Linked DNA regions of Homo sapiens: regions 2, 3, 4, 5 and 6 are each linked to region 1. Evidence: fine-mapped expression QTL. A gene starts in region 1. Each other region holds a variant in brackets. All regions are shown on one strand. Distances are between the middles of the regions.

The links. PIP is the estimated chance that this variant, and not a neighbour inherited with it, causes the effect.
Region 2: its variant is the best candidate, but not a certain one, in a credible set for the expression of TMEM158 in whole blood (INTERVAL, PIP 0.77).
Region 3: its variant is the best candidate, but not a certain one, in a credible set for the expression of TMEM158 in nasal epithelium (TOPMed, PIP 0.57).
Region 4: its variant is the best candidate, but not a certain one, in a credible set for the expression of TMEM158 in whole blood (INTERVAL, PIP 0.76).
Region 5: its variant is the best candidate, but not a certain one, in a credible set for the expression of TMEM158 in gastroesophageal junction (GTEx, PIP 0.62).
Region 6: its variant is the best candidate, but not a certain one, in a credible set for the expression of TMEM158 in fibroblasts (GTEx, PIP 0.65).

The regions. Positions count from the first base shown.
Region 1 is chr3:45,223,884-45,228,958 of GRCh38, reverse strand. It overlaps TMEM158 (transmembrane protein 158), which reads left to right and starts at 2,672. Exons shown (of 1, transcript NM_015444.3): 1 at 2,672-4,493. The coding sequence starts at 2,932. The coding sequence ends at 3,834. RefSeq lists silencers at 2,426-2,765, 2,776-2,845.
Region 2 is chr3:45,317,735-45,322,809 of GRCh38, reverse strand. The region is part of intron 2 of LOC105377061 (a long non-coding RNA gene); the gene reads right to left. Among named protein-coding and RNA genes, the nearest start is that of LARS2, 68 kb to the left of the region's middle. RefSeq lists an enhancer at 311-811. The variant G/T (reference allele first, on the strand shown) is at 1,919.
Region 3 is chr3:45,371,546-45,376,620 of GRCh38, reverse strand. No RefSeq gene overlaps it. Among named protein-coding and RNA genes, the nearest start is that of LARS2, 14 kb to the left of the region's middle. The variant G/A (reference allele first, on the strand shown) is at 2,795.
Region 4 is chr3:45,263,988-45,269,062 of GRCh38, reverse strand. No RefSeq gene overlaps it. Among named protein-coding and RNA genes, the nearest start is that of TMEM158, 40 kb to the right of the region's middle. The variant G/A (reference allele first, on the strand shown) is at 2,384.
Region 5 is chr3:45,111,773-45,116,847 of GRCh38, reverse strand. CDCP1 (CUB domain containing protein 1) reads left to right here. Exons shown (of 9, transcript NM_022842.5): 3 at 4,403-4,765. Among named protein-coding and RNA genes, the nearest start is that of CDCP1, 32 kb to the left of the region's middle. The variant C/T (reference allele first, on the strand shown) is at 3,025.
Region 6 is chr3:45,059,652-45,064,726 of GRCh38, reverse strand. No RefSeq gene overlaps it. Among named protein-coding and RNA genes, the nearest start is that of CLEC3B, 36 kb to the right of the region's middle. The variant T/A (reference allele first, on the strand shown) is at 2,233.

The DNA.
Region 1 (5,075 bases):
TGAACTTTTCAGATGAGGGAGACTGTACTGATATCCTGGCTTTGCCACTAACTGCTGTGGGACCTCAGGTAGGTGATTCACCTTCTCTGAGCCTCAGTTTTCTCATGGTAAAATAGGCATCACATCCATGGGATTGTTGTGAAGATTAGAGATGATGTGTGTGTATGTGTCAAACACCTGGCACGTGGAAAGTACTAAACAAGCGGAAGCTAGTCAGAGGTAGGCAAATTTGTTCAATCAAGAAGTATTGGCCGGCCACGGTGGCTCATACCTGTAATCCCAGCACTTTGGGAGGCCAAGGCAGGCGGATCACTTGAAGTCAGGAGTTTGAGACCAGCCTGGCCAACATGGTGAAACCCCGTCTCTACTAAAAATACAAAAATTAGCCAGACGTGGTGGCGCATGCTTGTAGTCCCAGCTACTCAGGACGCTGAGGCAGGAGAATGGCTTGATCCTGAGAGGCGGAGGTTGTAGTGAGCCGAGATCGAACCACTGCAGTCCAGCTTGGGTGACACAGCAAGACTCTATCTCAAAAAAACAAACAAACAAAAATGTATTTACTGAGCCTCTACCCTGAGCTAGGTGCTTTTCCCGTTGCTGGGAACAGTAGTAAACAAGATAGAAAATAACTTCCTCGCTATCTTCTGTTCTCAAATTCCAAAAAGATAGCAAATCAATCTAGAAAGTAGGATCTGTGTTACTATTTGAAGGGTAATTACATTCTGAATGAGGGCGAGGTGACGGAGTCCTCAGGACGGCACCTGCTGGAAAAGTGGGCAGAATGCAGGTTGCTAGGATGCAGAGCTTCAGTGGCGCAACTTTGCAGGGAACTGCTTGGCTCCCCAAATAGATCTCTTGTCTTTTCCCTTTGCTGCTGCCTTCCCCCCTGCACAGACAAAGCCAGGAGTGTCTCAGGAAAGCTCAGGAAGCCTCTGCCTCTGACTGAAACCCCAGAGAATGTCATCTGCAGTCACAGGCAACAGCCTGGCTCAAAACGCACCCCTTGAAGATTAGGCCTCCCTCAGCCCTCAGGATCACTTGATATTCCTGTTCTTCAGGGTTCACCAGACACATGGCTTAAATTAAAACTGTTCTGCCACATCACTGAGCAGCTTCTGTTCCTGATATGCAAAGGTTGAAAGGAGAAGTCATTTTTATTAAAAGCAGGAAAATTCACATTGTTCTCCCTGGTAGCACCACTTCCAAGCACAAAAGTGATGGAGGCTGAAACGAAAAGGGAGTCCCATCCCCTTGGGGAAATGAACCATTTCTGTAGAAACCAAGGACCACTCTAGGCAGCCAACTTGGGCAGCACTGTTAGTAACCACATCACAGCAACCACCATGTGGGAACATCTGGGGACAGATAGACACTGGGTTGGGAGTATTATCACAGCAGCCCTGTGAGGAGGTACCACCCACCCCCCAACTCAGATGGGGAAACCAAGGCTAAGTCAGAATAATGGCTTGCTTAGATGGCAAGAGGTGGAATAAGTTGGGGAGCTTTATTTTGAGGCGTTTTTGCAACTTTCTCAGTCCCATTTTACTCATTGTTAGAAAACAATGGACAAAAGCTTCCAGAAAAGTAATCAGCCAGGATGCCTAGCAATGTAGCTGGACTCTTGGCAGACCTCTCAGGATTAGCTGGTTTAGAAGGAAGGCGGTTTTGTTGAGGCCTTTCTCTGCTCCCTCCACCCCTCCCCTCTCCGAATCAGGAATACTTGGTGCTCATGGAGTACAAGGGCTTCCAACTAAAATAAAATAGATAATAATTCAACATAAATGTCCCCTAAAGAACGATGGGAATGATGAAGGGTCGTTGAAGTTTGTTTCCAAGTGTGAGGGGCCGAACTACTAAGAAAGTGCTTTTCAATATAAATGTGATAAATCTGATCTCTTGACACGTTATTCTTGGTAGCCCTCCTCCCGTATAATATCCCAAAGGGGATGAACTGCCCCTTTGACGTGGGTTCTAACCTACAACTGTTTCATGAACACGCGCTCACTCGACCTGTCAGGACCTGTGTCCTCGGGACCCCCAGGCGGCACAGCTTCAGGGCTCACATTCCCCCCAGCCAGTCACTCTCCACTCGAAACTCCACAGAGTTCTTGGAATTTTCCTCGCTTGCTGCGAGGAGAATCCCAAGTGAGTCTGCTGTGTTGGAGCCATTAAAAAGCAGCCAAACTCTACAGATTTGAGGTAAGAGACACCGTAAAAAGGCAGAAAGAGCTAGTGGCGCGGACTTGTTTCTGGCTCATGAGTTGGCCTAGCGAGGCCCTTTCCCCTCTCTCGACCTCAGTTTCCCCTTCTGTAAAACAAAGGAGGTTCGGTAGCACTAAGGCGAGACAGCGAAGCTCCCCTCAGGCCTGACAAAAGGATGGTCTCCGGGCCCTGGAGCCTCCCTCTGAGAACGCGATTCACCCGGAGCGCGGGGGCGCCCGGGCGCGTCCGCAGGCTTCCCCGCCCGCCCGCACGCACCCCGGGCGATCCGCTCTCCGCCGCGCCCCCGCACCCAGCCCCGCCCCGGCGATTCCTCTCCCAGCCCCGGCGCGTGGAACCCCGCCCTCCCCTGAGTCCCCGAGCCTGGCGAGCGGAGGGCGGGGCGGGGCGGGGCACGCGGGAGGCGGAGCCGAGCCGGGGAATCCTGCTCTGGGATAGCACCCGGCCCCGCAGAGCAGCGCGGCAGCCCAAGGGCCCCGGCGCCGGGGGCGGCGGGGAACCCCAAACGCAACCGGGTCTGGAGGGATCCCCGCGCCGAGCCAGCCGCCGTCACCGCCTCCGCGCCGCCCCTGCGGGCTTGGCAGGCGCCCGGCGCGCCCGCACTGCGCCCGGCCGCCGGCTCCCGCGGTCCCACCGTGAGCTCGCCGGCCCGTCGCCCGCTCGCCATGCAACCGCCGCCGGCCTCGCGCGCGTAGGCGCCCGCCGCAGGCCATGCTGCCCCTGCTCGCCGCGCTCCTGGCCGCCGCCTGCCCGCTGCCGCCCGTCCGCGGCGGGGCCGCGGACGCGCCCGGCCTCCTCGGGGTGCCCTCCAATGCTTCAGTCAACGCGTCCTCCGCGGACGAGCCCATCGCCCCGCGGCTGCTGGCCTCGGCGGCCCCCGGGCCCCCCGAGCGCCCGGGCCCGGAGGAGGCGGCGGCGGCGGCGGCGCCGTGCAACATCAGCGTGCAGCGGCAGATGCTGAGCTCGCTGCTCGTGCGCTGGGGCCGCCCGCGGGGCTTCCAGTGCGACCTACTGCTCTTCTCCACCAACGCGCACGGCCGCGCTTTCTTCGCCGCCGCCTTCCACCGCGTCGGGCCGCCGCTGCTCATCGAGCACCTGGGGCTGGCGGCGGGCGGCGCGCAGCAGGACCTGCGCCTCTGCGTGGGCTGCGGCTGGGTGCGCGGTCGCCGCACCGGCCGCCTCCGGCCCGCCGCCGCCCCCAGCGCCGCCGCCGCCACCGCCGGGGCGCCCACCGCGCTGCCAGCCTACCCCGCGGCCGAGCCGCCCGGGCCGCTGTGGCTGCAGGGCGAGCCGCTGCATTTCTGCTGCCTAGACTTCAGCCTGGAGGAGCTGCAGGGCGAGCCGGGCTGGCGGCTGAACCGTAAGCCCATTGAGTCCACGCTGGTGGCCTGCTTCATGACCCTGGTCATCGTGGTGTGGAGCGTGGCCGCCCTCATCTGGCCGGTGCCCATCATCGCCGGCTTCCTGCCCAACGGCATGGAACAGCGCCGGACCACCGCCAGCACCACCGCAGCCACCCCCGCCGCAGTGCCCGCAGGGACCACCGCAGCCGCCGCCGCCGCCGCCGCTGCCGCCGCCGCCGCGGCCGTCACTTCGGGGGTGGCGACCAAGTGACCCGCTCCGCTCCTCCCTGTGTCCGTCCTGTGTCCGCGCGCGCGGGTGCCTTTCCCGCCGGAGACTCGGCCGGTGTGCTTCGTGCTGTAGTTATCGTTAGTTCCTCTTCCCGAGATGGGGCCGCCGAGAGACCCCAGCGCCTTTGAAAAGCAAGGTTTGTGCTGCGCTTCCAGTTCCGAAAAGCAGATGTTTAAGCCCTTGGACTGAGGGTGGGATCGCAGCTCCGAAGACGGAGAGGAGGGAAATGGGGCCCTTTCCCCTCTATTGCATCCCCCTGCCCGACTCCTTCCCCGCACCCACGTGCCCTAGATTCATGGCAGAAAATGACCAAATCCTGTGTATTTGTTTTATATATTTAATAACTGTTTTAAATGAAAGTTTTAGTAAAAAAAATACAAAACAAAAAGATTAAATTGCTATTGCTGTAGTAAGAGAAGCTCTTTGTATCTGAACATAGTTGTATTTGAAATTTGTGGTTTTTTAATTTATTTAAAATTGGGGGGAGGGCATGGGAAGGATTTAACACCGATATATTGTTACCGCTGAAAATGAACTTTATGAACCTTTTCCAAGTTGATCTATCCAGTGACGTGGCCTGGTGGGCGTTTCTTCTTGTACTTATGTGGTTTTTTGGCTTTTAATACAGACATTTTCCTCCAGAGATGTGTATGTAGCTTTTTCTTTATTTGATTTGGGAAAGGGAATCCCAGAATTGCAAGACGTTACCCTAAAACCTGAGCAAGGGAATCTCGGAAAAGTTAGAGAAGGGCTACTTCTGTCTCCTTTACCTGGCTGTGAGAGATAGATGGAAACAGTATTATTTGCCCTGATGGCGATTGTCTTGCATCTCACCACACTGACCCTCAGTTCCCATCCACCCCCCACCTGTCACGGTGGCAAACACAGTTTTATATGATTTAACTTTTTGCTCATTGTTCTAAGCTCTGCAAAACACCCAGGCAAGCATCAAAATGGTAAAATCAATAGTTCCTCTGAGCTGGATGGCTTTCACGAAAATGACTCACTTTAAAAGGCATGTAGATTTCTTTTCATATGCATGAACTTTAGCAGATAAGCACATTCCAAAAGCTGGTATTAAAACCTGAGATATTATTTTGGCATTTAGATTTTTTAAAAAGATAAACTCTTGGGGGATAAATAGTTAATGATCACAAGATTTTCCTCACTCTTGGTTTCCATGTTACAGTGTCTGCTGTGTAGTAGTTTCAAATTCTTCCAGG
Region 2 (5,075 bases), 94 kb before region 1:
GCCAGTCTTCAACAGTGGTGCTGAGCTCACCCTGCTCAGGCTGCTACAAGACCCCTCTGATAGAGTTCAATCAGACTCTGCACTAGATGCCAACTCATGACCATGGTGGCTCCTCAATGGGTACTGGGGTAAAAACACAGGGCAGGGTCTCAGGAGAGGGCGCTATGGCCTTGGAGTGAGCGAGACCCAAGAATAATGTACCTGTCTGAAGAGTGTCCCCCCAAAATTCAGGTCTAATTGGATCTTATTTGGAGATAGGGTCTTTGTAGATAAAATTAGTTAGGATGAGGTCATACTGGATTAGGGTGGGCCCTAAATCCAATGACTAATGTCCTCCCAAGAAGGTCACATAAAGACACAGGAAAGAAGGCTCTGTGACATCATGACAGTGGCAGAGATTGGCTACAAACCAAGGAACACCCAACGATTTGGGGGCAACCACTAGAAGCCAGGAAGAGGCATGGAAGGATTCTCCCCTAGAGCCTTCAGAGGGAGCATGAGACACCTTGATTCAGACTTCTGGCCTCCAGAACCGCAAGAGAATACATGTCTGTGGTTTTAAGCCCCCAGCTGGTGGCACTTTGTTATAGTAACCATGGGAAACAAATGCGGATGCTGCCTGAGCAGATCTGCCAAGTGCAGCACACACCTGGGCTTGTTTCCCCTGAGCGGGAGCCCACAGCACCCTGGGTAGGATGGGCAGCCTCCCTAGGACTGCGGAGGGGCAGGGGCAACCTCACACAGACAGGGTGGGGTGTCCGGATCACAGCCTTTTCTGGCAGTCTGTCCACTCTGCCAACATTCAAGAAAGGACTCTTTAAAAAAAAATGTCTCCCAACAAAATCAATTCTGGAAAAGCTTCAAAACACAACACAGCTCCCCACTGTGCCTCTTAATTTTCCCCTCCAGAGGAGACAGTCTCGTACCTCATCAGTGCCTCAAAGGAAACAGAACAATCCAGTGCTGTGCTAGGGACAGCGCTCGTGGGCAGGCAGAGCTCACTGTCCTGCCTCCTGGCGGGTGGGCACAGTCACAGTCACAGGGCTTCTGTGAGGACAGGAGTCCTCAGAAACCTGGGACACTTCAGGTTCCCCAACAGGAGCTCTGCCGTTTTAGAGGCCTGCACTGAGCTCTGAGCTAACCCACCCACTTGTTACTGGGATCCAGAAGATTTCTCAGCCCAAAAGTGGCTTGATTGTTTTCTCTATGAGAAACAGGCTTTAATAATAATTAATTTGGCAAACTATAATCGGGGGTTCATGTGAGGATGCTGCAGTGACTCTTGTCGGAAATCAAGAGATGAAGGACACGAGGTCCCACCCCCAGGGCACCATCTATAAGAAATATTAATTAGACTTTGAATGCTTATATTTCCAAAGTGAATCCTTGCACATCCTCTCATCAACCCTCCCCATCGTGCTGATGAGAAGCCTGAGGCTCAAAGAGGCTGAGAGATTTGCCCTGTCTTAGCGTTCATGGGGACTCTCACCCACAGTGCGGGGAGCTGGAACCAGAGTTCCTTCCTCTGGGGACACGATATGTACACATGTTAGCAGGAAGTTAAGGAGGAATGGCAGGTGGCAGGAGGCAGTCCAAGCCCGCGGCCAGAGTTCCAAATTGATTCTTGGGTGAGAGAGAGAAGAGCCTATTGAAAATCCCCATAGCAACAAGACAGAAATCTGGGGGCACCCAGCCCCTGAAGTTTGGGGTGGTGTGGGCAGGGGTGGGAGAATGTAGAGCCTCAAATGTGGTCTTCTGACACAATCTCCAAAGACAGAACAGTGAAGGATTGAAAAGATGAACCACTCATCATTTAGAGTGGGGGTCTCAGTCTGTTATTACAGGCAACCTGGCGGGTGGGGAACTTTAATATCATGAGGCCAGGTCCCAGCCCCAGAGATTCTGACTTCACCATTCA[G/T]GGGTGGCCTGGGCATCGGGATTATCAGAACTCCCCGGGGACTTAGAGATCTCTCCGTGTTCATAATCCTATGTTGGTGTTTTTTTCTCCTCCTCCTTGTTTTCTAAAAATTTCACAAGGATCCCCAGAAGGTGTGAGCAGGGCAGGGGATTAACAGACCACACAGAGGCCTGCCTGGGTCTAGGTGAGGAGAGCAGGCCTAGAGGATACTGTGTATGTGTGTTTTTAAAATTAGGAACGGTTTACATGGAGTAAAATTGACCCTTTGAAGTTTACAGTTTTGTGAGTTTTGATTGATGCGTATAATCCTGCAACAATCCCACAATCAAGACATAGAACAGTTTCATCACCCAAGGGACGTTCCTGAATGGAGTTGCAGTGACGATTTAGGCTCCAAACCCGAATCCCCTAAATTCTCTGCCCAATCAAAGAAGTGTATCTGCAGTTCCTTCTCCTATTTCCGGGCCAGGCAACTTTCCTGATAGTTGGAAGCAATGATTTATCCAACAACCCATCTCAGCCTCGTTAGAGCCTGTGTTGAAAAAGCCAGGTTGCTAATGTCACTTTTCTTCCTTCTCCCGAGACCAATTTTCTGGACCTGAATAGCACCCACAGCCAACACCTTTTAAGATCACTAAAGCGACTTCCATGGGAGAAAAAAAAAATCACCCATTTCTCAAAGCAATCACAAGCGCTTTCCTCATGCAGCTGTTCCCAGCTCCTGAGAAATCATTTAATTGGTTTGGAGGTCACAGGATCCTCTTCCATGGTTTGGAGGTCACAGGATCCTCTTCCAATTAGGGTCTCATGCCAGCTGCCATCTGCACTGGGGACAATCGGACTGGGCTTTGTAAGACAAACAAGTCCATCTGAGAGGCAGCCACAGTCCTTCAGCAACCAGCTGGCTCCTTCCACAAGGCAGCCTGTCTGTAGCCTAGAGCTCATCGTTGCCTCCAGGTCTGTTATGTGGGACCAGAATGAAATAAACAGAACAAATATTTTCAACTCAGCCTCTTTCCCTTTTCCAGAGCAGCCCCCATGAGGATAGATGGGGTTGGCAGGGTAGTGGGGCCATTCCGGATCTTATCTTTCAGCCGTAGTGGAAGGAGAGCTTCCTGCCATGGCTCGTTGGCATGTCGACTCTATTGCCCCCTTCCCTACGATGCTCATACCGTATTAAATCTGCCTCTGTTTCAATGCCAGGGAGGGGACCCACTGAGGAGCTAAGTGTCAGGAACATGGTGAACAGGGGGTGGTGTGTACATGGGAGTATTTAACAAAATGTTCCCAAGTTGGGAGGACTTGCAAGAAAATGGAGGGAGGGAGGACGACTTAGGCCAAATGGTGGAGTCAACAAAGCCCCAGCTCCTGTGATTCCTCCTCCACAAATCCCTCCTGGAATCATGCCTCTAAATGTCTAAAGGGACATCTACTGTGCTCCCAGGGCCCTGAGGATCAGCTCCCCGCTGAGCCTTGGAGTGACTCCAGTTCAGGAGTCACACCCTCCCAGACAGACCAGGGCTGTAGGCCTTCAGGTAAAGCTGCGTGGCTAAACCTATATTGAGGAAGATTTATCTGGACCCCTACCCTAACTCCAACACATTAATACTTGTTTTTCCTGGGGCTGGGGGAGGGAAGCCCCCTGCTGCCCTGACCTAAGCCCACCCTGGAACTGTGGCAGAAATGGTAGCTCCACAGACCACCCTTCCTTGTGGATGAAACTTGTACATGCCCTCATTAGGCCCAGAACTGCCTAATTAACTCTTGAGTTAGAGAATCCTTGAGTCAAAAGCAAATCATAAAGGGGAAAGCCTGGGCCAGAGCCTTTATTTATTAGGGTTTCTGTGGGAAAGATAAGGTGGGATAGGGTAAGCAGTTTAGGAGTAAATGATTCTGGATGGCTTTGGGGCCATAGAGGTTGTTCCTAGTTGTCTGACACTCACTGGGCCCTGGGTTGATGTAGGGCGGGGGGCGGGGTGGAGGGAGTAAATCCAGGGCTCAGGCTTGGTTAGTTTTCATATGAAAGGCATCCTCAAGGGAGCCCTTTGCTATCTCTAATAATTGGCTAGCCCTGGGAGGAGCAGTCTCTCTCAGCAAGGTCAGAAATGCTAGAGCATCAAGAATACAGAAAATAAGAAAAGAGAGGAATTGGCCCAGTGATGAAAGGATGTCAAACAGATAAATTCAGAGTCTAAGAAAACACAGTTAAAACAGAGGTCCCATTCCCCTCTCTCTGCCTTCCCAGCCACCTGTCCCACTGTTACAGTAGGTAGCTAATCAGACATGAGCAGGACAGAAGAGCCCCACCACCAACAACCAGGAGTGTCAGGTGACCATCAGGTGATAGGCAGTTTGTTAACTGTCTTTCTTTTTTTCTTTATTTTTTTTTTTAGATGGAGTTTTGCTCTTGTTGCCTAGGCTGGAGTATAATGGTGCAATCTCGGCTGACTGCAACCTCTGCTTCCCGGGTTCAAGTGATTCTCCCACATCAGCCTCCCAAGTAGCTGGGATTACAGGCACCCACCACCAAACCCAGCTAATTTTTTTTTTTTTTTTTTTTAGTAAAGAACATCCACCTGCCTTGGCCTCCCAAATTATTGCTGGGATTACAGGTGTGAACCACGGCCGCTGGCCTTAACTGTCTTTCTAAAATAATAATTGATTGCAGCCAGCACCAGGGAAAGGCAGTCTCCCAATAAACAGAAACACCTGAAACTGGTGATCAGCTGCTTCCTGGTAAGATTTCAGGAGTTAGGTGAGTGCACTCATGCACGTACACTAAAAGGCAAAATGGCAGAATTTAACTGGTATATGACCTTCTCTAGGAATGCTAGAGATTGGTAAGGGAAGAATGTCTCTAGTGAGCATGCGTATAACTCCAGTAAACACACTGTATTTGTGGCTGGCCCCTCGCAAGGGCTAACAGGCCATTGTGCATGCAGACAGCCCACCCCAGGGGAAGAATCAGGGGCAGAAGGCACGCAAGGCCCTGGAAGCATGCCAACGTATAAAACCCCAAGTCAGAGGTCAAACAGAGCACTTGATCTCTCAAGCTGCCCACTTGGCCCTCTTCCAATTATACTTCTTTTCATTCCTGCTCTAAATCTTTTTAATAAACTTTCCCTCCTGGTCTAAAACTTGCCTCGGTCTCTCCTTC
Region 3 (5,075 bases), 150 kb before region 1:
TGCCTTAAGGACATGGTCCTGCTGCAGATAACTAGCCCAACTCATCCCTTTATTTCGGCCCATCCCTTTGTTTCCCAAAAGGGATACTTTTAGTTAATCTAATATCTATAGAAACAATGCTAATGACTGGTTGGCTGTTAACAAATACATGGATAAATCTCTGTTCGAGACTCTCAGCTCTGAAGGCTGTGAGACCCCTGATTTCCCACTTCACACCTGTATATTTCTGTGTGTGTGTCTTTAATTCTTCTAGCGCTGCTGGGTTAGGGTCTCTCCAACTGAGCTGGTCTCAGCAGAAATACATCCCATGCTCATGGATGGGTAGAATCAATATTGTGAAAGTGACCATACTGCCAAAAGCAATCTGCAAATTCAACGCAATCCTCATCAAAATACCACAATCATTCTTCACAGAATTAGGAAAAACAGTTCTAAAATTCATATAGAATAAAAAAAGAGCCTGCATAGCCAAAGCAAGACTAAGCAAAAAGAACAAATCTGGGGGCATCACACTACCTGATTTCAAACTATACCATAAGGCCATGGTCACCAAAACAGCATGGTACTGGTATAAAAATAGGCACATAGACCAATGGAACAGAATAGAGAAACCAGAAGTAAACCCAAATACTTACAGCCAACTGATCTTTGACAACGCAAACAAAAACATAAAGTGGGGAAAGGACACCCTTTTCAACAAATGGCACTGGGATAATTGGCTAGCCACATGTAGGAGAATGAAACTGGACCCTCATCTCTCACCTTATACAAAAATCAGCTCAAGATGGATTAAGGACTTAAACCTAAGATGTGAAACTATAAAAATTCTAGAAGATAACATTGGAAAAACCCTTCTAGACACTGGCTTAGGCAAGGATTTCATGACCAAGAATCCAAAAGAAAATGCAATGAAAACAAAGATAAATATTTGGGACTTAATTAAACTAAAGCGCTTTTGCATGGCAAAAGGAACAATCAGCAGAGTAAACAGACAACCACAGAGTGGGAGAATATCTTCACAATCTATACATTTGACAAAGGACTAATATCCAGACTCTATGATGAACTCAAACACATCAGTAAGAAAAAACAAACAATTCCATCAAAAAGTGGGTAAGGACATGAATAGACAATTCTCAAAAGAAGATATACAAATGGCCATGAACATATGAAAAAATGCTCAACATCACTAATGATCAGGAAAATTCAAGTCAAAACCACAATGTGATACCACCTTACTCCTGCAAGAATGGCCATAATCAAAAAGTCAAAAAACAGTAGATGTTGGTGTGGATGCAGTGATCAGGGAACACTTCCACACTGCTGGTGGGAATGTAAACTAGTACAGCCACTATGGAAAACAGTGTGGAGATTCCTTAAAGAACTAAAAGTAGAACTACCATTTGATCCAGCAATCCCACTACTGGGTATCTACCCAGAGGAAAAGAAGTCATTATATGAAAAAGATACTTGCACATGCGTGTTTACAGCAGCACAATTCACAACTGCAAAATCGTGGAACCAACCCAGATGCCCATCAATCAACGAGTGAATAAAGAAACTGATATATACATATGATGAAATACTGCTCAGCCATAAAAAGGAATGAGTTAATGGCATTTGCAGCAACCTAGATGAGACTGGAGACTATTATTCTAAGTGAAGTAACTCAGGAATGGAAAACCAAGCATCGTATGTTCTGACTGATATGTGGGAGCTAAGCTAAGAGGACACAAAGGCATAGGAATGATACAATGGGCCAGGCAAGGGTGGCTCACGCCTGTCATCCCAGCACTTTGGGAGGCCGAGGCGGGTGGATCATGAGGTCAGGAGATCGAGACCATCCTGGCTAACACGGTGAAACCCCGTTTCTACTAAAAATACAAAAAATTAGCCGGGCATGGTGGTGGGCGCCTGTAGTCCCAGCTACTCAGGAGGCTGAGGCAGGAGAATGGCTGAACCCGGGAGGCGGAGCTTGCAGTGAGCCGAGATCGCACCACTGCACTCCAGCCTGGGCGACAGAGTGAGACTCCATCTCAAAAAAAAAAAAAAAAAGAATGATACAATGGACTTTGGGGACTTGAGGGGGAAGGATGGAAGGGGAGTGAGGAATAAAAGACTACAAATATGGTGCAGTGTATACTGCTCAGGTGATGGGTGCACCAAAATCTCACAAATCACCACTAAAGAACTTACTCATGTAACCAAATACCACCTGTACCCCAATAACCTATGGAAGAATAAAAATAAATAAATAAAAATAAATAAATGCTTTAAAAAATAAGTATTTATTAGTTTTTAACTTTAAGCTTAGTCCTTTTTCAAAAATTACACTATCTTGGTTTTCCACATCATAGGAAGCTTCTGTAGAATGTGTTTGAAATGTTTGTTCCTTGGTGCCATAAAGAAATAGCACTTGAACATAAATTTAATTTATTTAGTAAGGCCATTTTTACTTCCTGCAGAAAGGGTACACTTGCTAGCAGTTTTGCCACAAAAGTACACTGAACAAAGGAAACAGGGTCATTTATAACCTGACACATTCACCCTACTGCTGTGTCTGGTTTCCACTGGCTGGAGCGGGACCTCACATTCTGTATTTGTCCTGATTGGCTAGCAACTTAGAACTTTTTAAAAGAGGCAAAGGTAGAAGGGAACAAAGGAAGGAGGAAGTAACTTGTGGAATGCTGAGAAAGGTAAAAACACTTTCAAGTAAGGAAGAGGAACAGGCTATGACCTAATGCTTGCTTGGACCAGTATAAGCATGCTAGGGCAAATATTTAAGCTAAATTGT[G/A]GGAGCTAAGAACATAAAGTACATTGATTTCCTTATTATGGCTAGCAGATATTTAAGAATGTTAGCACAGGTCTTTCAATAAATTTTGCTTCTAAGAGAAGTTACTATTTATTCCTAATTAGATGGGGAGGAAAGTCTTTGAAAAGGAACCTCTACTTTACTTTTTACACATGGACACCCGCAAAATTGACTTTCTTCCCAATGTAATTACCTGTTTTCTTTTATTGCATTTGATCTTCAGCCTGAACCACCGCACATCTCCCACCCTTGTGTCTCCCCCTCCAGCTCTGTCGTCCTTCTCTGCTTGTCTCCTTTGCCTTGGTTTTCATTCAGCCAATGCTGCAAACCCCGCAACAGGCAGGCCCCGCATCAGGAAATGGGCCTACAGCGATGAACTGGCCAGGCTCTCTGCCCTCCAGGGAATCTTTGTGTCTAATTCTACTCCATGACTGGGTGCCTCTGCCTGTCTTCCCATCTGTGTGTCTTTCATATTCTGGAACCTGACCCTCCAAGTCTCTCTCTCTCTCTCCCTCTTTCTCTCTCTATCTCTCTTTCTCTCCTCTCTACTGTTGCTTCCCAACCACCCTCTCAGATGGTCTTTGTGGTCCCCACCATGCTACCTCCTCACCCCCTTCCTACCTCACCTTGCCTCACCTACTCTGTTGGAACCTGCCAGGGTTTAGGCATTCTGGATTAATTTAAGTAGTATTTAAAATTTCTTAATGATCAATTTGCTGAGTTATTTGTGGAATCCCTTAACATCGTGTCACTTGAATCAGTGTGACATTATTTCTCTGCCCTCTGTTCATTTTCCCTACTTCTTGCTGCTTGCTCTGCACTCTATTTGGCTAATATAAAAGCCTGTGGCAAACATCTCCAGGAATGGGAATCTTTATTGCTTTGACCATCTCATCCCCTTAAGGTAAAAACAAGACTATTCCTCCTTGCTTACCCCTCTAGGTAAGGCAAACTCACTAGAAATGACCTAGAAGTGTAAGAGTAATACATAATTCCAACTTGGTATTTATTTCCATGCTTTAACCAGGTATATTCTTACCTGAGCTGTCACATTTTATTTTATTTTATTTATTTTGAGATGGAGTTTGCTCTTATTGCCCAGGCTGGAGTATAATGGTGCCATCTCGGCTCACCAAAACCTCCGCCTCCAGGGTTCAAGTGATTCTCCTGTCTCAGCCTCCCAAGTAGCTGGGATTATAGGCATGCACCACCACATCTGGATAATTTTGTATTTTTAGTAGAGACAGGATTTCTCCATGTTGGTCAGGCTGGTCTCGAACTCCCGACCTCAGGTGATCCACCCGCCTCGGCCTCCCAAAATGTTGGGATTAGAGGTGTGAGCCACCTTGCCTGGCAGCTGTCACATTTTAGATGTTGATTTAGATCTTCTGGGAACAACTTTCAGTCTCCCAGTATGGAGATGAAGGCAAACCTCAAGATACATGCTACTATATGAATTACTTTTCAATAAAATTGCCCCAGCTGTGATAACCAAATCGCTTAAGGTATAGATGGGCTTATCATCTATTGTTTCCTAGCATCTATTCCTCCCTCTTTCCTAATCATCACTTTTGGAATTCCCTTTAGGAAACTACCCCTTGACCCAATTCTGGGCCATTTAGTCTATGGACTTGACCTGCATCCCCAGGTCTAAGGTGCGGTGTAAACTACTCAGCTCATTCTATCCCAGGAACACAGAGACAGTTCAGTCAGAAACATGACCTAAGCCAGAGCAATCAGGGGGAAGCACAGGACTTCTGCTAGGAATACTAGATCCCAGATTCTCTTTCCTTCTGTGTGTAATAAAAACCTTAGGAGCTGCTGCAGCCATCCCAGAACCGAACCGCTGCTGCAACAAATATGGAAGTGCAGATATCTCTTTGATATACTTATTTCCTTTCTTTTGAGTATATACCCAGCAGTAGGATTGCTGTATCATATGGCAACTCTATTTTTAGTTTTTTGAGGAACCTTCAAACTGTTCTCCATAGTGATTGTACTAATTTACATTCCCACCAACAGTGTGAGGGTTCCCATTTCTCCGCATCCTTGCCAGCGTTTGTTATTGCCTGATGATGTCTCATTGTAGTTTTGATTTGCATTTCTCTGAAGATCAAAGATGTTGAGCATCTTTTCATATCCCTGTTTGCCATTTGTATCTCTTGTTTTGAGAAATGTCTATTCAAATCTTTTGACCATTTTTTAATCAGATTTTTACTTTTTTTTTTTCCTACAGAGTTATTCAAGCTCCTTATATATTCTG
Region 4 (5,075 bases), 40 kb before region 1:
ATTGGAATGCCCGTAGAAGTCAACAATTTGAACATCCTAAAATCTTCCTTCTACATGAAAAATATTCTAATGTGCTAAACACACAGGTGCATATCCAGTTGGCTCTCCGTATTCCTGGGTTCCACATCCTTGGATTCAACCAACGGCAGAGTGAAAATATTTGGGAAAAAATACCCCAATACAACAAGAATAATACAAATTCAAGAAGACAATACAGTGTAACAACTATTTATATAGCATTCACATTGTATTAGGTATTATAAATAATCTAGAGATGACTTAAAGTATATGAGACTCCTCTATAAAGTAGGTATATATTTTTAAAAGTATATGGGAGGATGTGTGTAGGTTATATGCAAATACTACCCCATTTTATAGAAGGGACTTGAGCATCCTCGGATTTTGGTATCTGCGATGAGTCCTGGTCAATCCCCCATGGATACCAAGGAACAACTGTGTGCATTGGTTATACACATACCTATATGCATGTGTATATGTACATATATAACCAATCCCCTGAGGATATGGAGGAGATATATGGATAGATAGATATAGATATAGGTATAGGTATATGCAAAATCTTCATAGCAATGAAATGGTCTGCAACAAAGCAAAGTAAGAGAATCACCTGTGATTCAGAAAAGCAGGAGGAACCTGAGCCTTTGAAGGTAAACAAAGACCAAGCCAAAAAGCACTTCACAGCTTGAGATCATCTTTAGGGAAAAGTAGCCTAGGATTTTTTTCATAGGGAAGCAGATAGTAAGGGGAAGAGGTAGGAATGAACAGTAAACCAAGCCTTAGACCTGAGCAGTAATAGATCCAGAGCCACAAAATTTTGCACAAATCCAAGCCTCGGAGGGGGTTACACTTTCAGGAAAGGGTGAAGTTAAGGGTATCCTACCTAGCAGAGGCTGACTTCAAGAAACAGTGACTCAGAATCAGTTCTGGCAGAGGAGGAAAAATGAAAACTTCTCCTGAGATTTGAAGGCAAGTGGCCAACCCTCCTCTAGGTGTGATGTCTGAATGTACACTGAAATATACCAAAATATCCCAAGATAAGAATTTAGAAGAACCTAGGTCCACAGTGCCCAAAGCTCCTGACGGAGGCAATCATGTACGCACAACACAGCCCTCATAAAATTCCTACTGGAAAAGTCCCATCATAAATGAGCTCATAATGTAAAATCAGAAAAGGCCCAAGTAAGCAAGCCATCATGAGTAAGAGTCAAAAGAAAAAAAATTAGAATTATTAAATATAAACTATGATTTTAATACGATTAAGTAAATAACAGAGATAATTTGAAAGTAAGTAAGAAGCAGGAGCTTATAAAAATAAGCAGACATATTAAAAAGAACCAAACAAAGCTTCTGGAAATAAAGAATGTAATAGAAATTAAAATATCTGTAGAAGAGTTGAAAAGCAAAATAGACACAACTGCAGAGAGAACCTGTAATTTCAAACGTAGATCCAAAGAAAATACACAGAATGCAGCTCAGAGACAAAAAGATATGGAAAAGTCTGGTTAAGAAAATTAAATGATGGAGTGAAAAGGTCCAATATAGATCTAATCAGGGCTCCAAAAATAGATAATAGAGAGTGCGATAAGAGGTAATTTTCAAAGATATAAGAGCTGAGGGTTTTGCAGAATTGAGTAAAGACATAAATCCCCATATTTAGAAAGTTTTTGAAACTCCCAGACAGGATAAGTCATAAGGTGGACATACTCAGACACATCGTAGTGAAACTACAGAATGTCAAAGACAAAGGGATGATCTTAAAAGAAACCTGAAGAAAAAAAAGACAGATTACTCACAAAGGAGCCAAGATAGATCAAATTTGACTTCTCAACATCAAACATAGAAGCCAGAAGAGAGTGGAATAATGTCTTCAAAGTGGTGATAGAAATAATTGTCAACTAGATTTATAAGCCTAGCAAAACCATGTTTCTAGAATGAGTAAAATAGAGACATCTTCAGTAACGTAAACAGTAAGAGAGTTTGCCACTGACAAATCCTCACTAAAGAAACATCTAAGTGATGTACTCCAGGAAGAAGTAAAATATCCTAGAATGAAAATCTAGGATCCAAGAAGAATAAGCTGACAGGTGAAAGTGATTTTTCCCACTCCACCAGACCCTCCCTGAATCATTACTTCCTTCCTTCTGCTTTGGAGCAGATTGCCCTTCACTTCCTTGCCCACCTGGAAAATACCTACTCTTCTCCTAGGAATCACTTTTTCTGTGAATCCCTCTCTGGATCCTCACCTAGAACTGATGCCTCTTCCCCTTGAACCTCCACTGAACTTTTGGGATTTTTTGTTTGTTTGTTTTTTGAAACAGGGCCCCACTCTGTCGCCCAGGCTGGAGTGCAATGGCGCGACCTC[G/A]GCTCACTGCAGCCTCCACCTCCTGGGCTCAGGTGACCCTCCCACCTCAGCCTCCCGAGTAGCTGGGACTATGGGCACACACCACCATGCCCGATTATAATTTTTGTATTTTTTGTGGAGACAGGGTTTTGCTGTGTTGCCCAAGCTGAGTCTTGAACTCCTGAGTTTGAGCAGTCTGCCCACCTCACCCTCCCAATCCACTGAACTTTCTATGAAGTTTTAGAATACTTTCCTTCACTTATTTATCTATCTTTTTCCCTTCCTACACTGTGATCTTCTTGAGGGAAAACTTTAAGATGAATCTCTATATCCTCGGCTTAGATTATCACTATTAACAATGACTATTTCTTGGTAACGGGAATTTTACATCAACAAGCTCATTATTCTCTAGAGAAAGAAAAAAATCAAATAGGATTCTAAGGCTGATGAAGGATGGAAAAAAAAAACAAAACAGATGACTGCAGCGGGGAACCAAAAGAGGAGTGGAAAATTGGGAACTCTTAGACGTGGTGATACCCGGGGAATGAAACTGGGCACAGGAGAGGAGTGGTGGCAGATGAGTTTTCATTTTAGGCCTTTCTAGTGGTTCAACTTTGTCTCGATCAAGTGTATATGTTTCTTTAATAACCACAACAATAAAAATTTAGCAAATTGTGTAAAACCAATTTAGAGGACATCCTCATGAAGCGGGACCTGTTAAGTAAATTGTAATTTACCCACGCTGTGTATACTGTGCAGCATTGAGAAAGGGAAGGTAGCCTGTACAGAAATGGAAAGAGATCCATGATGTTATGTAAGTGAAGACATTTTAAAAACTAAGTTGATGACCAGTATGGATGTTATGATGCCAATTGTGGTTTTTTAAATCTCTATGAATATGTATATCATCCGACTCAGATCATTTTTTCTTACAAGTGGCAGAGACTCAGCTTTTAAACAAGAAAAGGACATGAATTGGTTCCTACAATTATAAAGTCTGGGGGAAGATCTGGAGCTTTAACTGTAACTCGATCTAGGGGCTCAAAGAGCTCTAGGCTCAGGAAGACAGCACGTTGCCTCCAGAGTACCCCAACAGTTCTGGGATGGAGAGGGTGGCCCAGCTTGCATATGGGCTGGGGGAGGGGGATGCTCTTGGGACCAGGCCTGGGCCATATCCCAACCCTTGTCCCAGGAGGTGGGGTCGGTCTCCCTCAGTTGAGTCTCACAGACTAAGCAAAAATGTGAGCTGGATGGGTGGTGGTCCCCAAAGAAATTGGGTTATTGTTTCCAGGGGAAGGTAGAATCGATTTTGGATGGATTAACTCAACTGATGTCTACCATATACACATACGTCACTTTATCTTATATGACTGGGAAAAGCTCTGGAAGGAGACACTTAAGCTTGGATTAGTGGAGAGGAGCAAGTCCCCTTTTTGAGAGGCTTACACAAACCCAGGGAATTACACATTACTGTACCCCTGACACTGTTCCTTTCCAGGGTCAGTTGTCACAAAACTATCTTGTTCAAAAATTTGGGGCTGTAAGTGGCAAAAACCCACTCAGATGGGCTTAGGCAGAAGGTAGGGGAAAGTTGCTAAAAGAATCCAAGGGTCCCACAAAATGCTCAGACTGTAGAAGAGAATCAGACACCATTCTCCCCAGCTGCTGGCGGGAAAGACAGAGGCCGTGAATGACTGCCACTCTTTCCTCTTTTAATTTTTTTAAGTTGACTTTATTGAGGTATAATTTACATACAATCAAATGCACTTTTTCTTTCCTTTTTTTTTTTTTTTTGAGATGGAGTGTTGCTGTGTCACCCAGGCTGGAGTGCAATGGCATGATCTCGGCTCACTGCAATCTCCACCTCCAGGGTTCAAGCAATTCTCCTGCCTCAGCCTCTTGAGTAGCTGGGATTACAGGCATGTGCCACCACGCCTGGCTAATTTTTGTATTTTTAGTAGAGACAGGATTTCACCATTCTGGTCAGGCTGGTCTCGAACTCCTGACCTCAAGCAATCCACCTGCCTCGGCCTCCCAAAGTGCTGGGATTACAGGTGTGAGCTACTGTGCCCGGCCCAAATGCACATATTTTAAGTGTATAGAAGGGTGAGTTTTGACAAATGCTTACACCCATGTAATCACTACACCCCCTCAGAGTTCCCTCAGGCCCCTTGCTGTCCAACTCCCCTCACACCCTGCCCCAGGAAGCCATTGTTCTGATTTCTACCACCTTAGATTTGTTTTGTCTTTTCTAGATCGTTGTAAAAATGAAACCATACAGCATGTCCTCTTTTGCGTCTCTCAGATGCTCTTTTTGGATATCACAGGGTCCCTGGGCTCTGCATCTCTCTGCAGGTCTTTGCTGTTCTCTCTTTGCTCACTTCCTATCTGTATATGCCCATGCATGGGGCCAAAGGGGGACACCCCTAAATCCCTTTGTCCTTGTCATGTGACCAAGAGTGACCTACCTCATTTCTCAATGACAATCTAAATTTCTGAAAGGTAAGATTTAAGGGTCCAGCTCAGGCCATGTCAGGCTGTGTGCCCACCAGCTCTGGCCAGAGGAGCAGGGTCAGAGCAGACACAGGAGACCACAGGGCCCATCCTGTCGGTGCAGAGGTGGCTTCAGGTCTTGGAGAATGAGGAACGGTGAGCAGATACCCCTGAAAGAGTCCACCACACTGAAAATTGCTTCACTGTAAGTGTCTGGTGG
Region 5 (5,075 bases), 110 kb after region 1:
AGAAAATTTAATGGGCTGGATTGACTCATGGAAAGGTAGGAAAACTGAATAAATAAATAACCAAGGAGGGGATTGGAAAAAATGCCCGAGACAGGGGAGAACAGTTTGGGTTAGTTAGAGATGATTTTACAAGTGAGTTCTATAAAACTTCAAGGAGCAGATAATTTCTATGACATTCAAACCATTCTAGAGACAGGTTGGCAAACTTCTTTCAGATAAGGTCCGATAGTAGGTGTCTTAGGCCCGTGAGCCAGGAGGTTTGTATCATGTCACAGCTCCTCAACTCTGCTATTACAGAGTGAAATCTGCTGTAGACGATATACATAAACCACCTGGCAAATCAGTTAATGTGATGCTTTGCATTATTAGGTTAGAGAGGAAAAAACTACATATGATTATCTCAATAGATGATTTTAAATGTCTTTTTTTTTTTAACGGAACACTATGGCTCCTCAACTCTTCTATTACAGAGTGAAATCTGCCATAGATGATACATAAACCACCTGGCTAATCAGTTAATGTGATGCTTTGCATTATTAGGTTAGAGAGAAAAAACTGTATATGATCATCTCAATAGATGACTTTAGATGTCTTTTTTTTTTTTTTTTAACAGAACAGTATGAACATAGATTTTAAATGTCTTTCATAAAACACTCTTAGTAAATCAGGAATGGAAGGTTATTTTCTTAATTCAATAAAGAGCATCTATCAAGAACTGATAGCAAATACCATATTTAACTATCAGATATGGCAGCATTACCAATAAAACAGGCAATAACATAAGGAGGCTTATTATGCATGCCCTTGGTCACCATTATTCAGAATCTCTAATTAAATATATAGAGATTATCTTAATAAGTACATAAAGTATACGAAGCAAAATATAAAATTCTGTTGAAAGACAAAAGAGAAGACTTAAATAAATGGAAAGATATGCCATGTTCCTTGATAGGAAAAATAAATATTTTTACAAACAATTAGCCAGGCGTGGTGGCATGTGCCTGTAGTCCCAGCTACTCGGGAGGCTGAGGTGGGAGAATCACTCAAACCCAGGAGGCAGAGGTTGCAGTGAGCCGAGATTGTGCCATTGCACTCTAGCCTGGATGACAGAGTGAGAATTTGTCTTAAAAAAATTTAAAAAAAAAAGAAATACTAAGTATTTTTAAAGTGTAAATTCTCCCCTATATTAATTTATCAATTTAAGTCAATTATAATTAAAATTTTAATGAAGCTTTTACAGAGTTAAAGAGAACGTTGATATATTTAAGAACGCAGTGGAATGGTGTGTTGCTACTAAGAGAATGAAGTAAGTTTGTGTATTTGACATAGAAAGATGCCCAAAATAGTTTTGTTCCATTAAAAACAATGCAGCTTATAGTAGGACAATAGTTTATATAGTTTGATGCTACTCTATTAAATACACACATGTGCACATGCACACTTACATACATGCACACAAACATGCACACACAATCATACAGAACCCAAAGTCTGGAGGGATAAACTCCAAAACTCCAAAATTCTAACTTTATACTACTCTATAGGGGATGGCAGAGGGGAACAGGTGACATTTTCTTCTTTCTACTTTTCTGTACTTCCCCGCCCCACCCCACCCCACCCCCACCTTTTTTTTTTCTGTCACCCAGGCTGGAGTGCAGTGGTGACCACAGCTCACTGTAGCCTCAAACCTCCTGGGCTCAGGTGATCCTCCCACCTCAGCCTCTGGGGTAGCTGGGCACACACCACCACACCCACTTGTCTTTTTGTTTGTTTTTAAAACGACTGTACATTACTTTTATAATCAGTTAAACCAATAAAGTGACTTCCACTTTGAAAAAGGAAAAATGTAACAAGTGACACATTTCACAAGTCAAGCCTTTGAATGCATTCAGTCTCTCAATCCTAGGATGCCCACATGGCTTACTATGTAGTAAAAACCCATGCTCACAACTTTTGAAAATGATATGAAAATATCAATTTCTAAAATAATAAATCTAGACACTGAATCAGGTCCAGTGGTCCACCTGCCCTTCATTGCCTTTTCTGAACAATCATTCTGAAATCAGCATCAGATAAAATTTGATGTCTCCATTCTCATCTCTTCTTGAATAGTTCCATGAGAACTAATGAAAGTTGGCTGAGCATGGTGGCTCATGCCTGTAATCCCAGCACTCTGGGAGGCTGAGGCAGATGGATCACCTGAGGTCAGGAGTTCAAGACCAGCCTGGTCAACATAGTGAAACCCCTACTAAAAATACAAAAGAAATTACCCAGGCATGGCAGCACACACCTATAGTCCCAGCTACTTGGGAGGCTGAGGCAGAAGGATCACCTGAACCTGGGAGACAGGTTGCAGTGAGCCAAGATGGTGCCACTGCATTCCAGCTTGGGTGACAGAGCAAGACTGCATCTCCAAAAAGAAAAAAAAAAAAAAGAGAGTTAATGAAATTAGAAATCTGCTGGGGAAAATGAGTTTATGAATCACTTCAGAAATAATACTTCTCCATCCTCTGGACAGGAATCATTTTAGTTATTTAAAATGTTTTCACTGGACAGAGTACAGGAGAAGATTCCGAGGCATGCCAATCATTTTGACTACTCTTACCTGTGTGTTCATCCTAAAAAACAAAGCTCTTAGCATCAAATGAAAAATTGCTTTCATAACCTGACTCTCACAGTGTCACATGGCTGCTGACAGAGCTGAGGCTGGGAGATGGGGCTTTTTGACTCCAGATTTTACTATAGAATTAAATCAGAATCCCTGGGATGGTCCAGGCATGTGTAGTTTTTAAACGGCCTGCAGGTGAGTTGTAGGTAGAACCAGAGCTAAGAGTCACTGCCTTACTAGAGTTAAATGTTTCCACAAGAGTACAGAACCTAGCCAGAGCCAACTGATGTTGCCCTGGGCACACTGGAGGTGTGCGTGGAAAATCACTTGAGGTCTGCTTTTGAAAGAAAGAGGTGGCTTGATATAAACATTGAAGTTTCCATGAGCTCCTAAAATAGGAACTACCTTTACTAACA[C/T]GCAAAGTCTAATTTTAGTCACGTTAGTCACCATGTTATCTAACCCTGTGTTATTGGTTAGACAGCATAGCGCATTGGCAAGAAAGGGCTGACCAAACACAGCCTGAGCTTTCGTCCTGGGATCTGGAATTGCCGTGTACTTGCTGCAAGTGCCAGCCCAAGTCACCTGGATCCACAGCTGCTTTGCAAAAATTAGAGGTCTGGCTTGGATGACCTCAGAGATCCAAGACTGATCTGAAATTCTCCATAATTCTATTTTGAGTGGACAATACTTTCAAATACCCCAATAGAACAGCAGTAAAGATTCACAAATTATTATTATGGAGGCCAGAGTCTATCACACCTTTCAGATGCCCCCTGCTCAAAACAACAAAACCTTAATGTTACATTGCCTACTTTCTGTTTCGTCCCCTCACTTTCCTCTTGTTTTCTCTTTGATAATATTTCTTGCTTTGTTTTAAAAGGCTTAGGAAACAAATATATCAAAGGATGTTATTAGCTGTTAGCCTTAAAAAAAGAAATTCAACTGCAGTGGTTATAAAATATCAGCATTAAGGCAGTGCAAGAAGAGAAATGGCGCCGCCAGATTCCAGCTGTCCAGGGGAGTTGCACGTTCAGAGTATATTTGCTATGTTGATGAATGTGTTGATGGGGAAACCAGTTTTAAAGGATGGATCTTGGCACTGTGCTCTACAAATTGTGAAATCGTGACTCTCTTAGTACAGGAGAAGTAGGAGATCCCAAAGCACAGACTCTGCTACAAATGCCTTCCTTCTGGCTTCACCCACTGGACCCCAGGAACTTAATCTGGAAATCACAGTAGTTAAGAGATGTCTCAAGTCTGGTGACCTGGAAGCAGAGCCTGAGACAGGATTTTTTGTTTAAGTCAGTGATCAAGAAAGTGCTCTCAGAAGTGAGGAAAGCAGGATAGAGCAGGGCACGTAGCTGAATGCAGATGCGGTTTTAGCTGAAGAGTAGCTTCAGCCTGACCCCATGGGGAGCTCTGGAGTATGAATGGCATACCCAGGTTACATCACTTGAAGCAAGGAGGTCAGACTTTTTAATTCCTGCAGGAGGCCATTATTGGCTGTAGACAGCACCTCTCCCTTGGGATGGGCATGAGGGGCTGCAACACCTCTCAGGCTTTTCTGGTTCAAGGCAGCTCCCCCGAGCTGAGGCACTTCCCCGAAGGAGGGTACATCTGTGAGCCATTGGCCACTAAGACTCACAGCAGTTGGGGCCTGGGTGCCCCTGCCTGGTAAAGGCCACCTTGGGGGAGCCCCAAAGAGTCTACTACAGGGGGCTGAGTGGTGGAGGAGGAGTGGTGTGGGGCCTTGGAGCATCTGTGATCAAAATTGCTTCTGTGACTGTTTTTCAGACTGTATGTCAGGCCCATGTCCTTTTGGGGAGGTTCAGCTTCAGCCCTCGACATCGTTGTTGCCTACCCTCAACAGAACTTTCATCTGGGATGTCAAAGCTCATAAGAGCATCGGTTTAGAGCTGCAGTTTTCCATCCCTCGCCTGAGGCAGATCGGTCCGGGTGAGAGCTGCCCAGACGGAGTCACTCACTCCATCAGCGGCCGAATCGATGCCACCGTGGTCAGGATCGGAACCTTCTGCAGCAATGGCACTGTGTCCCGGATCAAGATGCAAGAAGGAGTGAAAATGGCCTTACACCTCCCATGGTTCCACCCCAGAAATGTCTCCGGCTTCAGCATTGCAAACCGCTCATCTATAAAACGTGAGAAAGCCCCTCCCTGCTATCTGATTAGGTTAAAACACACAAGATCATCATTGTTCTAGGTCAGAAATGGTCAAATGTCAGCAAATCTCTAATACTCAATATAAAAACCATAAAGGAAGATCTAGCTCTCTTATAAGTGACATGGGTCATGCATTCCTAGTGTGAACCCCCTCTTCTCTATTAAACAAACGGGGTGATTCTCTTTGTCCTTTTTGCATGTGATACTTGTTTTCAAAAAAATGACAAGGGATTGGTTCTACAGACCCACCTTGATTGCTTCATTTCTAACTTCTTTGTCTTCCATCTC
Region 6 (5,075 bases), 160 kb after region 1:
ACCTCGTATTCTTTCTTGCACATGGTCCAAGAACCCTCTCTTGGGGTCTGGATTGGGACCGTTTTCCAGTAACATTTTCTCCCTACTCCACCCCCACCTCCCCCACGGACACCTTCCTCAATGACACCAGGCTGGACGAACAGCACCACTCCTTTAGAGGAACTCATCACTTCCTCTCCACTGTAGAGTTAAGTTGGAGCAAAGTCAGTATCTCTAAATAGCTTCTAAGAATTTGGGAAGCTTTTTATTTTATTTTTTAAGTTTGAAAAAATCTTGTTAAATAGAAACTATGAATAGTGTGTGACTTCAAAGAAGTCTGTGGGGCTGGAAAACTTCTCACAGTATACCCTTTTGTAACTTTTGAATTTGAACCTTGAGAATGTATCTCCAATTTTAAAATAAAATGAAAATTAAAACCTCATTTAAAAACTTGTTAAAACTCTGCTGGGTGCAGTGGCTTATGCCTGTAATCCCAGCACTTTGGGAGGCTGAGGCGGGTGGATCACGAGATCAGAAATTCAAGACCAGCCTGGCCAAGATGGTAAAACCCTGTCTCTACTAAAAATACAAAAAAAAAAAAAATTAGCCAGGCATGGTGGCGGGCGGTAATCCCAGGTACTCGGGAGGCTGAGGCAGATAATTGCTTGAACCCGGGAAGTGGAGGTTGCAGTGAGCCGAGATCGCACCACTGCACTCCAGCATGGGTGACAGAGCTAGACTCCATCTCAAAAAAAAAAAAAAAAACTTGTTAAAACTTGGCTGGGCATGGTGGCTCATACCTGTAATCCCAGCATTTGAGGAGGCCAAGGTAAGCGGATCCCTTGAGGCCAGCAGTTTGAGACCAGCCTAGGCAACATGGTAAAACCCTGTCTCTACCAAGCATACAAAAAATTAGCCAGGTGTGGTGGTGTGTACCTGCAGTCCCAGCTACTTGAGAGGCTGAGGTGTGAGGATCACCTGAGCTTGGGAAGTCAAGGCTGTGGTGAGCTGAGATTGCACCACTGCATTCCAGCCTGGTCAACAGAGTGAGAATCTGTCTCAAGAAAACAAAAAACAAAACAAAAAAACCTTGTTAAGACTCAAGATTCTGTGGTTAATAAATGTCCCCACAAAGTATTTCAGTCTTGCCAGCATCTACTGAGTCCATTGTTTTCTGAGTCTCCCTAACAGGCTCATGGATAGAATGGATTAGAAGATGTGCTGTAGAAATTATAAACCAAGTGGCGTGCAGTGGCTCACACCTGTAATCCCAGCCCTTTGGGAGTCTGAGGCGGGCGGATCACCTGAGGTCAGGAGTTCGAGACCAGCCTGACCAACATGGAGAAAACCCGTCTCTACTAAAACTACAAAATTAGCCGGGCGTGGTAGCGCACACCCGTAACCCCAGCTACTCCGGAGGCTGAGGCAGGAGAATCGCTTGAACCTGGGAGGTGGAGGTTGCAGTGAGTCGAGATTGCACCACTGCACTCCAGCCTGGGCAACAAGAGCAGAACTCCGTCTCAAAAATAAATAAGTAAATAAATAAAATAATTAATTAATAAAAAAAGGAAAAGAAATTGTAAACCAAAAAGTATCTGAGACAGGTCTGAATCAATTTAGAATTTTATTTTGCTGAGGTTAAGGACAAGTGCTCAGGAGGCAGGTCTGTGCCTTTCTCCAAAGATGACTTTGAGGGCTTTGATATTTAAAGGAGGAAAGCAGGCTGGAGGAAAAAAAGGGAGGATATGGTCATATTACTGAATCCACATGTTGTGAGAAAGGGAGCAGGTAGGGGAATAGTCAATTATATATTCATCTTTTGTTCAGTAAATCTGCACTTTACGTAAGATAAGGTGAACTTAGAATAGCTACCTGTGGAAATTCTGTAACATTTTATCTGTAGCTGTCTGCTTAGAAATGAAAGGAAAGGCAGCTTCTTCCACAACTCAGCTTTCAGCTTAATTTTTTTTCCTTTGCCATAGTTGTTACCAGAAACAGGTCCCAATCAAGACCCCAAGAGAGGGTTCTTGGATCTCACACAAGAAAGAATTCGGGGCAAGTTCATAAAGTGAAAGCAAGTTTATTAAGAAAGTAAAGGAGTAGGCCGCGCACCATGGCTCACGCTTGTAATCCCAGCACTTTGGGAGGCCGAGGCAGGTGGATTACCTAAGGTCAGGAGTTCCAGACCAGCCTGGCCAACATGGTGAAACCCCATCTCTACTAAAAATACAAAAATTAGCAGGGTGTGGTTGC[T/A]CGCCTGTAGCCCCAGCTACTTGGGAGGCTGAGGCGGCAGAATCACATGGGAGTCAGAGGTTGCAGTGAGCCGAGATTGTGCCACTGCACTCCAGCCTGGGCGACAGAGTGAGACTCTGTCTCAAAAAAAAAAAAAAAAAAAAAAAAGTAAGTAAGTAAAGCAATAAAGAACGGTTACTCCATAGGCAGAGCAGTGTCGTGGGCTGCTCAGCTGCTTATGTTTACTTATTTCTTGATCATATGCTAAACAAGGGATGGATTATTCATGACTTTCCGGGAAAGGGACCGGCAATTCCCATAACTAAGGGTTCCTCCCCCTTTTAGACCATATAAGGTAACTTCCTGATATTGCCATGGCATTTGTAAACTGTCATGGTGTTACAGAAAAGAGGTCTGATCCAGACCCCAAGAGAGGATTATTGGATCTCACACAAGAGAGAATTCAGGGCAAGTTCATAGAGCAAAGTGAAAGCAAGTTTATTAAGAAAGTAAAGGAATAAAAGAATGGCTACTCCAGCCAGTCATGGTGGCTCATGCCTGTAATCCCAGCGCTTTGGGAGGCCGAGGTGGGTGGATCACTTGAGGTCAGGAGTTCGAGACCAGCCTGGCCAACATGGTGAAACCCTGTCTCTACTAAAAATACAAAAATTAGCCAGACATGATGCCACACTCCTGTAATCCCAGCTACTCAGGAGGCTGCAGCAGGAGACTAGCTTGAACCCAGGAAGCAGAGGTTGCAGTGAGCCAAGATCGCACCACTGCACTCCAGCCTAGGTGACAGAGCGAGACTGCATAGACAGAGCAGCCCCTAGGGCTGCTGGTTGCCCATTTTTTTGTGGTTATTTCTTGATGAAATTATAAACAAGGGGTAGATTATATATGCCTCCCCGTTTTAGATTATATATGGTAACTCCCTGACATTGCCATGGCATTTGTAAAATGTCATGGCACTGGTGAGAGCATAGCAGTGAGGATGACCAAAGTTCCCTCTCATCACCATCTTGGTTTTGGTGGGTTTTAGCTGGCTCCTTTACTGCAAACTGTTTTATCAGCAAGGTCTTTATGACCTGCATCATGTGCCAACCTGTCAAATTCTGTGACTTAGAATGCCTTAGCCATCTAGAAATGTAGCCTCATTTTGTAGGTCTCAGCCTCATTTTACCCAGCCCCTATTCAAGATGGAGTCACTCTGGTTCAAATGCCTCTGATATAGTGAATTGGGGTACCAAGTTTTTATTTTCCTTTCACAAAACACTGCAAATATTTTCCTTTCACAAAATACTGCTGGAAGCCTCTTCCACACCACCTCCAGGTGATTCTGGGGCTCCCATCCTCTACCCGACACTCAGACCTTGGTATCCCCAGGCCTTGATACCCCCATCCTCAGGGGCTGACAACCAGCCCTGGGAGAAGAGGTGCTGGGCTCCCTCCATCTGGAAAGAGGAGTCCTGGCACCAGCTGGTGAAATGATTTCAGGCCCTTTCCCAGCCTCTTCACATTGCCCAGGACTTTCCTATCTGACCCCTCCAGGATCCAGACTGGAGATGCAAGAAACCACTCTGACTAGGGACTGGGGTCTAGGGACTGGGGTTGTGAGGGGTCCAGCTGCTCCTTCGAATTCAGGGAGAGAAACCCAGCATGTGAGAGGGACTACTCAGAAAATTCTTTTGTGGTTGCTATGTCATTTGAGGGGAAAAAATATTTTTAGCCAAAATCCACATCCATGGCTCTGCAGGAGAAAAGTAAAGAAGCACTCTGCCACAGACGAGAATTCAGTCTGCACTGTGGACCCTGGGCTGGCTCACTGGCTCTCAGGATACCAGCAGGGGCCAATTTCATTCTTGATTCCTTTCTTTTCACAAAACACTAATTAGTTGGCTGCCTGACACCCACAGCGTTCCCTGAGCTTGTTTGCAGTCCTAGCAGTGGCAAGATTATTTTATATTCCTGGGTTAAGTCTTTTCCCCTACCTTCCACCTAAGGGACTGCCCCCCCTACCCCTCTATTAAGACTTCCACCCCCCACCCCACCCCATGCCCACCCCTGGTAGCTGCAGCCACCATGAGGCCAGCCTGCAGGCTTGGTTTCATGGGTCTTTGATCTCAATGGGATCAATAGTGTGGGTCAATACCTTCTCTTTTGATTTGCAAAGCACTTTCACAAGCACTCTTTTACCCCAATCATCACTGTGCTGGGCACACAACAACTCAATAAATTCTGAATTGAATCGGTCCTTATAACCACCCAGTGAGGCAAGTGCAGCAGAACTGATTATTTTCCTCCTCCTCTCTCTCTCACACTTTCTCTTTCTTTCTTTTCTTTCTTTCTTTCCTCTTTCTTTCTTTCTTCTTTCTTTCTTTTTTGATCCATTATAAGGAAATCCAAAGAATGTGTGATTCTGACACTAAGGCCACACAGCAAGAAAGTGGCAAACTGATGGGAGAAGTCCAGCCTCCTGCTGCCCGGTGTGAGGGAAGGGGGCCCTTCTGCTATACCCATGTGACTCCAAGGTGTGTTCTGTGGCTGCTGATCTCTCTTTTTTTTTTTTCTTTCTTTTTTTTTTTTTTTTTGTGAGACGGAGTCTCACTCTGTCACTCAGGCTGGAGTGCAGTGGTGCGATCTTGGCTCACTGCAACCTCCACCTCCTGGGTTCAAGTGATTCTCCTGCCTCAGCCTCCCAAGTAGCTGGGATTACAGGCACCATGTCTGGCTAATTTTTGTATTTTTCATAGAGACAGGGTTTCACCATGTTGGCCAGGCTGGTCTCGAGCTCCTGACCTCAAGTGATCCGCCCACCTCGGCCTCCCAAAGTGCTGGGATTACAGGCGTGAGCCACCGAGCCC